Linked DNA regions of Homo sapiens: region 2 is linked to region 1. The links come from fine-mapping of genetic effects on gene expression. A gene starts in region 1. The other region holds a variant in brackets. All regions are shown on one strand. Distances are between the middles of the regions.

Evidence for each region. PIP is the estimated chance that this variant, and not a neighbour inherited with it, causes the effect.
Region 2: its variant is fine-mapped to the expression of MDGA1 in nasal epithelium (TOPMed, PIP 0.95).

What each region holds. Positions count from the first base shown.
Region 1 is chr6:37,695,997-37,701,218 of GRCh38, reverse strand. MDGA1 (MAM domain containing glycosylphosphatidylinositol anchor 1) reads left to right here and starts at 3,336. Exons shown (of 17, transcript NM_153487.4): 1 at 3,336-4,474. The coding sequence starts at 4,408. RefSeq lists silencers at 2,225-2,294, 2,315-2,384, 3,251-3,380, 3,401-3,470, 3,531-3,660 and 3 more and enhancers at 3,983-4,712, 4,713-5,222.
Region 2 is chr6:37,633,615-37,639,089 of GRCh38, reverse strand. MDGA1 (MAM domain containing glycosylphosphatidylinositol anchor 1) reads left to right here. Exons shown (of 17, transcript NM_153487.4): 15 at 423-553; 16 at 777-885; 17 at 1,631-5,475. The coding sequence ends at 1,722. Among named protein-coding and RNA genes, the nearest start is that of MDGA1, 62 kb to the left of the region's middle. The variant C/T (reference allele first, on the strand shown) is at 2,193.

The sequences.
Region 1 (5,222 bases):
TATATATATATATATATATATATATATATACACACACACATATATATATATATATTTTTTTTTCTAGTGGGAAGTGACCTAGAATGATCTTGAGTGGAACCGAAGACTTGGCAGCTGGGTGCTGACCACCAAGCCTCCAGATAGCCTGACCTCAGGCTCATCCTGTGCCCTATGGCCCATGTCAGGTCTAGCAGTCTAGCTCTCATGTCCCCCCTGCCCTTGGTGCAATTTGGGGGCCAGAGTATTGTTCTCTGTGTCTGTAAAGGGAACAGGAAACAGTTCTTGTGGAAACATTATTTGATACCTAGGCCCTTGCCCCTCTTCAGTATAGAACAGTGGGAGAGGGCAAGGTCGCCGAGCCAAGCTACTGAGGTCAAAGCTCAGTTTGGCCCCTTAGCAGCTGAGTGAGTCACTACATCTTCCTATGTCATTCCATGAGAATAACAGCCCTGTCTTACATAATGGTTATGAAGATTAAATAGTTAATACAGTGCCTGGCATGTGGTGTCAGCTGTTATTCTTATTACTCCACTTCTCTCTAGGAAGACAGGGATCTTACCTAGTTTACATCTGGGGAAACTGAGGCCTAGAGAGGTTAGGACTGGGACGCAGGACTGATGTCTAGGGCTCTTTCCCTTCTCTGAGGTTGCCTCCCATTGTCAGACACTGGGCTGTGTTGAGGCAGCAGGCAGGGCACACTTGGGGGAGGAGACAGCTGAATTTACAGACACACACAAACAGGCTGTCAAGGTATTTACACTGCATACAATTAGCTGCAGAGTATTCACAAGTGGATTAGCTACAGCAAATGTTCAATCCCAGCCTGGCTAACTTGGTCCTCTGTTCCCCCCACCCCGCCATCATGAACCTTCTTTCTCCTCCAGGCTAGTGTGTGAGTTTAGAGAGGGCAAAGTCAAGAGAATGTCAGCTGAGTCAGTGCAGTTCTCTGTCCCCAGTAACTCACCCCAAAGCCAAAGAGGAGCAATTGACTGCTGTTTGGTGTTGGAACAGCTAATTGGAAAATCAGAGCGCAGTTTCGCACGACATGGAGAAGTACACATTCAGCTCAGAATGGGCAAAGCCAGGAAGAGCCACAGTCGCTGTGATCACTCCCTGAGAGCTTCCTGGAAGGGGTAGAGACTTCCAGGAACCCTCTAATAATGGGAAGAGGATGACAATAGAAGAAGCTATCCCTCATCACTCCCTCAATTGGCACCACTTCCTTTTCTGACTGGATGGGGGAGGCGGGAAGAGGCATGGTGGCTGTGTATCTCTGTGGGACAGAAAATGAATTTTTTGCCTTTGAGGTAACAGTCCGGGGCTGGGGAGTGAAAGGATGGCTACCCTGAGGGTATCCCAGGTCTGTGATATCTGGCCATGATGGGCATCATTCGTGAATTCACTGAACATGTCTGCAGCTGGCATCTGCTGGGAGCACCGCACTGAGTCTGGACTTCCTATCAGCCTTGGACCCACGGGGTAGAAAGGAGAGAAAAGACGGAAGAGGGCACAAGGGAGGCGCAAACGAGTGGAGGTGGGCTAGAGAATAGGAATCTTCGGATGTTCTCGGGCTTCCTGAGATGGACAGAAAGGGGGCTGAGAAAGGAAGGTGGAACCCCCCCATGCCACCAGGCACTTCCCGACACCTCCCGCTCCTCTTCCAGCAGTCAGGAGCGCGCGCTCCGGTGGGGCTTAAGCCCTGGAGAGTCAAGGGAGGAGAGACCCAGCAGGAAATGGGCCTGGGGAAGGGACGGTTCATTATTATTATTTTAAAAAAATTTATGTTTCAATTTATATGCAGACTAACCTTTTTGGAGTGTGGAGATCTTTGAGTTTTGACAAATGCATAGAGCCGTGGAACCACCATCAAGATATTGAGCAGTTCCAGGGGGCGAAGGGAGGGGGGGTTCGTAGTCTCCCCGCTTGTTAGCTGCTGCGATTGTCTGCGCTCCCACGGGCCGACCTAAAACAATTCTTGCGCACACGCTGAGATAAATAACGGCGACAGGTGGAGCAGGTGAGATTAGCAGGACCCGGGTTGGGCGCGGGGCGGGATCGGAGGCGCGGGGGAGGCCACCAGCCTCGCTTGCCAGCCTACGCCCCTCCCCGCGGGCGTTTGGGAGGAGCGTTCTCCGCACTCCTGCTCCGCGAGGGCCCCTTCGAGGCGGCTGAGACCCGAGTGCCGGACTCCCGCCGCTGGAGCGGGGCTCGGGTTCGGCAGCCGGAAGGAGGTGTGCCCCCGGGGCGCTTGGGGGCGCCTGAGGTCCCGAGGGGAGGCAAGATGGGAAGAGTGGCTAGCCGAGGAAAATGTGGGGTGACTTAGGGAAGCTCTGGCGGAGGGGTCGTGCGAGCAAACCTGTTGGCAACCTGTGGGCCGCGGCAAGGGCAGGAGCTCTCAGCGCGACCTCTCCGCCAGCTGCTCCGGCCCGGCCCCAGCACCAGACGCCTGGAAAGGGGCGGGGGCCTCTCGAGCCGGGCAGACAGCCTTGCAGACCCACAGCCGCGGCCCGTCTCGCGCGGCTGCAGGACCCCAGGAACCGCAGGCGCCCGGCCTTTCCCTAGGACCCCCGCTTCAGTCCCGCCTCCCCAAAGTGCAAAACATTTACGAAGTGTGCAGTGCCCTGCGGGCATGGGTCTCCGAAGCGAGCGGCCGTGTTTGCCCCGCGGGCTGCTGGCAACGGTGCACCCGGCTCGGCCAGCTAGTCTGGGTGTGCAAGGCTGGAGAACAGCGAGTGTGCGAGCGCGCGGCTGCAGAGCCCCCGCCGAAACCCAGGTCCCTCCGCCACTGTCCTCGGGATAGATGGATCCATTTCTGCTTTCTGACATTTTCCTGCTGGGCGGGGTTGGGGGGGAATGTTAGGGGGCGGAGAGAGGAAGAGAGAGAGAGGGAGAGGAGAAAGGGAAAGAGAGGAGAGGAGAGGAAGGGAGAGAGAGCGAGAGGGAGAGAGAGAGGAGAGAGAGAAGAGAGAGAGAGGAGAGAGAGAGAAAGAGAGAGAGAGAGAGAGAGAGAGAGAGAGAGAGAGAGAGAGAGAGAGAGAAAGAGAAAGAGAAAGAGAAAGAGAAAGGCAGGCAGTCAGCTTCCCCCAGCCCTGTTTTGTTTTCTCTAATTGGTCCTGGGGGAGGCGAGGAAATTGGACAGAGGCTGGGCCAGGCGAGCTGGGCTGCCTTTAATTGGCTCCTTTTTTTAACTGGAGGGGAATCAAACAGGAGAGCGAGCGACAACGGGTGGGAGAGCGAGAGACCGAACGAGGAGACGCGAGGAGGAGGGAGGAGGAAGAGAGGGAGGGAGGCGGGAGGAGCGCGGAATGAAAAGCTCGGAGGGGCGAAAAAGCAGCACAGCAAAGCCCAAGTTGCTGAGCGAGCGGAGCGCTCCCGCGGCCCGGAGCCGAGCGGCCGCCGCGCCCCGGAGCCCGGCCCGGCCCCGCCCGCTCTGGGCCCCCGCAGGCCAAGGCCGCCGGGCGGGGGCGGGGACGACCAACTTGGGGCGCGGCGTAGCCCCGCTCTCCCGAGAGCTCGGAGCCCGGGAGGGCTACGGCCGCGGCCAGACGGCGGGAGAGGAGCGCGGCGAGCGGAGGCGGCGAGCGGCGCCCGCGCCGCAGCCCCGGCCTGGGCGAGAGCGCGAATATTTTTCAAAAGACTCAAACTTTCCTCCTTTCCCCGTTTTCTGGGGCCCTTCTTGCCTGGAATTGCTCTCCAGATTCCCGCGGGGCGCCGGGCTGCTATTCTTCCCCCGGGTTTATCGGCGGCTCGGCTAACTTCACGGACCCGGGGACCCGCGGCGCTCGTCCCTCGGCCGAACCCAGCCCGCGCTGCTCCCCGGATCAGGAGGGCCGGGCCCGGGGCTGCTTCGCCGCCGCGAGTGCTTTCAGCCCGGCCCCCTGGAGTCGGGCCGCTGAGCCCACGGCAGCGGCCGCAGGACTGGAAACAGCAGATTGATTAACTCGAGCGGAGCCCCGGCCTCCCCGACTCCGCTCCGCTGAGGGGCGGCCCCAGTGCGGGGAAACGACAAGTTTGTCAGTCGTCCGTGGCCTGTTGGATCGAAGCGCCGCCTCCGCCGCCGAGAGGTCCCCGGCGCCTAGCATCCCGCGCGGACGGCCCTGGGTACCCGGGGCGGCTCGGCGGCCGGGCTCCTCGGGTCGGGGCGCTGGCTGCTGTGCCGGGCGCGCCGAGGCACCCGGGGCTGGGCCAGCGCCCCCTGCGTCCCCACGCGGGCAGCGGCCCCGCCGGAGGAGAAACACGGGTCGCCGCCACCTCCGCCTCTTCAGTCTCCTGGTCTTCGTCGCCGCTCTCTCTCTCACCTCTCAGGGAAAGGGGGGGACATAGGGGCGTCGCGGGGCCCCGGCGAATGCGCCCCCCGCCGCCTCTCGGGCTGCGCCGCCTCGCGGGGATGAAGCACCGGCCGTGAAGATGGAGGTGACCTGCCTTCTACTTCTGGCGCTGATCCCCTTCCACTGCCGGGGACAAGGAGTCTACGGTAAGAGCCCGCGTCCCGCTCCACCTTGGCTTAACCTCGCGCGGAAACTTTGCAAGAGGCGCAAAGTGCGCGCTGCCGGGGTTTGGTGGAGACCTCGACTCGGACTCTGGAGTGGATGCCCGCGTCCCCGCCCTCTCCAGGGCGCGTGGAGACCGAGCTAGCTGCTTCGGAACACAGGGGCCGGTCGTAGGGTCTGGTGGGAAGCCGGGATGTCAGGAGGAGGCACCCACTTTCCCACACCCTGCTAGAGGTGGGAATGATTAGGAACCCTTGAGAGCACCCGGTCGGCTCGGGAGACCCGGACAGACCCAGTCTAGGACTGGTGCAGCGACTTGCACCGAAACCTCGTCCTGGCTCGGCCTCCGGAGTGGAAGCCAAGCGATGCATGAGCCGGAGTTGCCGCGCGGCTTGCGGGCGAGCCGGCTGTCAGCACCAAGGCCGGGCGGCGGGCTCGCCTTCCCCGCTGTTGCTGCGGCTTCGCTTCTTCTACTCAGGGCTTGACACCCTGATCAGGATGCCGGCATCCCCTGGCCCTGGCGCCTTCGACCCCGGCATCCCTTTTCGGACCTTCCCTGAACCAGTTCTTCCTGTCCCCGGTTCTTGGCTACAAACCCCAACCCCACCTTCCTTCCTGCGCGCACACACAGATACATTCAGCCACCATCCCCAGAAAACGCAAACACGGCACGCACCCACCGGGATACGTGTCCAAACTCTGCCTCCTGCCACGCAGCCTTGCTCCTGCGTC
Region 2 (5,475 bases), 62 kb after region 1:
TCCCTCCACAAGTCATGTACTGCCAACAGGGACACACTGTTTTCTTTGGAAACCCTGCTGCGTGCCCAGACAGAGGTCCCACTGCCCTGGGACAGCTCCCTTGCCTAGAGGGGAAGGGTAGGGTGTGTGTGCATGTGTGTGTTTGGGGTTGGGGAGATTAGCTGATTAGCAGGGCAGGAAAGAAATGAAAGAAAATTTGCAAGTCATCCTGATGAAATGAAATCCTGCTGAAGTCTTCTCTTTCCCACACTGAGGGTGTCCCTGCAGGAATGGGACATTGCACCCAGCTGGGCATGGGGAGGAGGTCCTGTCAACAGGGACAGGGCTGCAGGCTATGGTGGGAGAAGAGGGCTTGGTAAATGTGGAAAGGTGAGGGTGCCCTGGCCAGATCTCACTGCCCACTGTCTTCACACCCACCGCAGGCTCCCTCAACCTCCTGGTGCGGTCCCGGAACAAAGGGGCTCTGGACACGCACGCCTGGTCTCTCAGTGGCAATAAGGGCAATGTGTGGCAGCAGGCCCATGTGCCCATCAGCCCCAGTGGGCCCTTCCAGGTGAGTCCGTAGGGCCCAGAGGACCCTCCCCGGCTTCGGTGGTTGCTGTGGCCAGGAAACACTTAGGAAAACCTTGTCCTTCTTCCTGGGGGCTAAGGATGGAAAGAGTCAGGTTAGGGGGAACTTCCAGGTAGATTAAGGGGAAAGGTGGGGTCGAGGGAGCACTCTGGTACCCAGCAGAACCTCCTCAACCCTTGCTCCTTGCTTTCTGACCCCACCCCAGATTATTTTTGAGGGGGTTCGAGGCCCGGGCTACCTGGGGGATATTGCCATAGATGACGTCACACTGAAGAAGGGGGAGTGTCCCCGGAAGCAGACGGATCCCAATAAAGGTGCAAGACGGGAAGGAGGTGGGGGAGCTGAATCTGGAGGGAGCTGTGCGTGGCGGGGGTTCCTGTCTGTTGAGGGAGGGTGTTTGGGTCTGAATAGGGGTTCAGAATGTCTGAGTGATGGGAATCATGTGGCTCTGACTGTGTGAAGGTGTGCCCCACACTCACTCAGGCTGTGTACTTGTGTAAACAATGAGAAGCCTGGCCCCCACCCTCGTGATGAGCATACTGACCTGTTCACGGTATCAGAGCGCCTCCTGTGCCTGTGTCTGAATACATCTGTGCGTACCTCTGGCTCCAGAGGTGAACGTGTGCCTTCCAGGGCCAGAGGTTTCCAATACTAACAGCTCCTACTTACTGAGCAATTACTCTGTACCAGGCAAGGCACACAAACTTGTATATGCATGTTTCACTTACCTCACAACAGTTAATCCTCACAACAGTCCTTTGGGGTAGTACACACCATTGGACCCATTTTACAGATGAGGAAACTGAGGCCCACTGAGGTCAAGTAAATTGTTCCAAGTCTTAGTGAATGTGAACCCTGGCAGGCTGAGCTAACCCCCACCCCACCCCACGCCACCTCATGTCTGTGCGGTGAGTTTGTCTGTGTGCACTGAGGCCAGTGCCCACCCTCAGGCCCTCCAAAGAGGTGGGCAGAGTAACAGTGCCGACCTGCCTGCCACTTCCTGCCCCTGCCAGAGCTGACCAGAGCCCTGGCCTGTCTCCTCTTTCTCCCCTGTTGCAGTGGTGGTGATGCCGGGCAGTGGAGCCCCCTGCCAGTCCAGCCCACAGCTGTGGGGGCCCATGGCCATCTTCCTCTTGGCGTTGCAGAGATGATGAGAGCTGTGTGGCCACCCCCCCAACCTTGCCCCCGGCACACCAAAGTGTCCACATTGTACCAAAGACTGACCCCCGCCAGCTGGGGTGCCCAGGGGCAGGGCCGGCCCGCCAGGGAGGGGGCCTGCATTGGCTGCAAGGATGAGCAGAGAACAAGGACAGAGGCCAGGCACTGAGGCCCTGGAGACAGCTGTTCCACTTGCACACACGCACACACTCATGCTCACACACACAGAGATATATTAAAGCACAAGTTTCTATCTGACCTGCCAGCACCTTCTTTACTGCAAAGACAGGGGACTTGCCTGAATGGCATCCGCCAACCCAGGGACCTCGGCGCAACATAGGCCTTGTCCTTGCTGCACTCGTGGTGTGCTTCTGACTTTACCCTGTCCCCTAAGTCAAGGCCGAACTCCAGCCTGGTGGCTTTGCCAGAAGGGAGCCAGAAGTGGGGCAGACATGGAGCCCCT[C/T]CCTTGGTCAGACTCTGGGACTCCTGAGATGGGAGAGGCAGGGATCAGAGGACGAACAGGTGGGACTTTGCGAGCTCTGTGACTGTCCCACGTCCAGGAGACAAGGAAGGTAGGGCACCTGCTGCACACGATTCTGTCCAGAGTGAGCACTGGATGGTGGAGACCATAGGTCACCCCAGATTCCTTGACCTATTTCTGGGACACCATATTTCCCTCCTCAGTGTGCACCCTTTGAAGGGACCCAGCACAGGGTCTTGGGCCTGGGCAGTCTGAAGACTGATAACTTCCCCACTCCACCCTACAAGCAGTGGGACTCCTGAGAACACGGTTCTCTCCTAGCCTCAGCCCCCAGCTGGGTCTCAGAGGAGCTGGGGGAGCGGTGGCCAGCCCATTTTCTGGGGTGAGGCTTGACTTGGAGAAAGGCAGAAGAGACGTCCCGCTTCTGTGATTTGGTGCCCCCATATCAGACAATGAATTTGGAAGTGGAGAGGGGCCTTCATTTCTTATCTACTTGGCATGAAAGGGTGCCCTGGATAGGAGGGTGTGTACAGGGCAAAATGCCAAAAAGCACTGTCTAGTTGAAAGTTCCCTTCTCCACCCAGGGGCAGTGAAGGAGGAGGGGCTTATAGAGCTGGGATTGGTGGAGGGAGCAGGTGCCAGTCCCCTCACTCTCTGGGAGCTGTGAAAGGGATCCCTGTCCTTGGGTCCTGGGTTAGGCACCTGAGATTGACATGATGGGATCTAGATCTTTCCTCCTTGACATCACCTGAGCCCCCACCTAGCCATCCATGGGAGAGAGAAGGCCCAGCCCCTTCTAGAATGACTCTTTAGGCATGCGTGCATATGTGTGTATGTGTTTGTGCCCGTCTGTGTCTAGGTACCACCGTGGGTACATTGTTGGGCAGGAGTGTGTGCAAACACAGGTCTGTGTGTGCAATCTCACATATCTGCCTGTGAGACTGGATTGAGACCCATTCGTTTCTATGAATGTCCGTGTACGTCAGCGTGTGTGTCCACCTTCCTGAGTGATGTGTTCGCTTGTAGGGTGCTGGCTGAATAGACTCTGTCCAGCCCTGTTCTGTAGTCTCAAGCTGCCTGCGATGGCCTGAAATTCCACCTTTCATCCCCTATGGATGACGGAGAGCTTACAGATGACCCTATTGAATGCAAGCACCTTTGGTGAGGAGCATCACAGGGCTCCTTCTGGAGCATTTGGTGGGGACAGCTGCAGAGAAGAGGCCTGGAACTCGGGCAGCACTGCAGTGCCAGGAGGCAGGCGGGGAACCGAGGCAAAGGCTGCCCATCTCCCCCTGCCAGGCCTGTGTGATCATTATCACCAACAGCTGGTGGGTGGCCGGGCCAGGATGCAGCGGGGCCTTCTGATGCCCAATCAGCACGGCTGCCTTCCTGACCCAGTCAAGGCCTCTGTCTGAAATGAGTCGCTCCAGGTTCTCAGCATACACTTCCATCGCGTCTGTCGGGTATTGTTCCTTAACTGTCCCATCTGTGCAGAGTCCATTGCCCCAACTAGACTGTGAGCTCCTCCTCTGAGCCTTCCAAGTCCCCCCTCCACCTTCGCCACCTCCCGCTCGTGCCCAGCACAAGTGAGCCTGGTGTGGAAACCACTCCATTGCCCGGTGGAATGGATTCTGTAATCAGTGGTTCCTGGCCTTGCCTGCAGAATAGAACCACCAGAGTCCTTTAAAAAGTATTGCTGCTTGGTTCCCACCTCAGAGGTTCTGAGTTAATTGGACTGGAGCGCAGTCGGACATCAAGAAATGTTGAAAAGCTCCTTGGGTTCTCCTGACAGCAGGAACCACTGGCCTGGCACCACCTGGGTGCTTCCTCTGTGCCCTCGCTGGGGTAGGCATTGGAGCACCAGAGATGAATAGCCCCAAGTGCTCCCTCTTTGGGGTTCCCAAGGCACCCTGTGCCTGCTTCCCTCAGAGGACCTTCCAATCCATTTGCCCCGCAACCCTGGCTGCTCCGACAGGGGAGACTTGTCTCCCTTGTTCCCCTCAGGATCCATAGAGTGGACAGTAAAGGTGCTCAGTACATGTTGGCTGAGCTGAACTGCATACATGTGGCCCCCAGGTTCCTGGTCTTTATGGACGAAGGGCACAAGGTGGAGGGGGGATGGGGGGATGCTGCTGGAGGTCTCAGTGGGTGCAGACAGCCCTGCCTTGAGGATGGCTTGACCTGGGATTGACAAAATGTGTCTGCTGAAATGCTGAGGTCCCCACGTGTGAATGGGTGAGGCTGATGTGGATGTCTGTGTGTGCCAGCAGGTGGGTGGGGGATGTGGGTGTCAGTGTATGCCAGTGGGCACTGTAAATGTCTAGGCATGTGCTGGTCTCTGTGTGTTTGTGTGTTCCTCAGCAGGAATGAGTGTCTTTGTGTATCACCTGGTGACTTGTCAGTGTCTGTGTCTGTGTGTGCCTGTGAGCCAGCATCTCTGTATCAGTGTTGCTCATGCTGTGTCTTTGTGCGCCATGGTGTGTCAGTGTCTGTGTGTTGATGGGTGGCCCATGAGTGACCCCCGCCAGGGGAGACCAGGCTGGCTGGATCCAGCACATCTCCCCAGTGGCAGCCTCGCCCTCTGGGTCAGGGTGACTGAGGCATTTTGTGGCCTTAAAACGGGGTGTTCAGGGTCAGCCCTCAGGGTGCTGGGGCCCTTCCATCCCTTGTCCCCTTCAGGTTGGTGAAAAGGACTCCGGGGGCCAGGTGCTGTATAGCAGCTTATGGAAGTCTCAGCTGGGCTATCCTGCCCTTGGGAGCACAGACAGGCTCCTAGGGTGCTGAGTGAAGCCTGAAGACCAAGCCCCCTCCTCCTGGAATGCTCCTTCCACCCCTACCTCTCAGAGATGGGCCTGACACCTCTTTCTCATTCATTCTCCTTTTCCCTGTGCTCTGGGAAAGCCCCTGGCTCAGGCTGTCAGAGTGAGGATGGACCTCAAAAGTTTGATCCCCTCGTGCAGATGAAGAAGCTGAAGCCCAGAGTGGGGAAGGGGAGTGGCCCAAGGTCACACAGCTAGTTTGAGTAGAGCCAGTCTTGGGAGAGCCAAGTACTACAGCCCTGGGGGTGTCACACCGCTTGTCACTGCCCCTGAGGTCTCCTGCCAAACAACTGCAGGGAGTTTGGCTAACAGTCCTGTGTCCAGGGTGCCGGTGGGGATGTTATAGATGTTGCTGGGATCCTGCCCTCGGCTCCAAATTCTGGCCTCTCATCCCAGGCTGCAGACCCTTCTGCCCCATGACAGGCCTGGGTGCCACACAGAGGTGG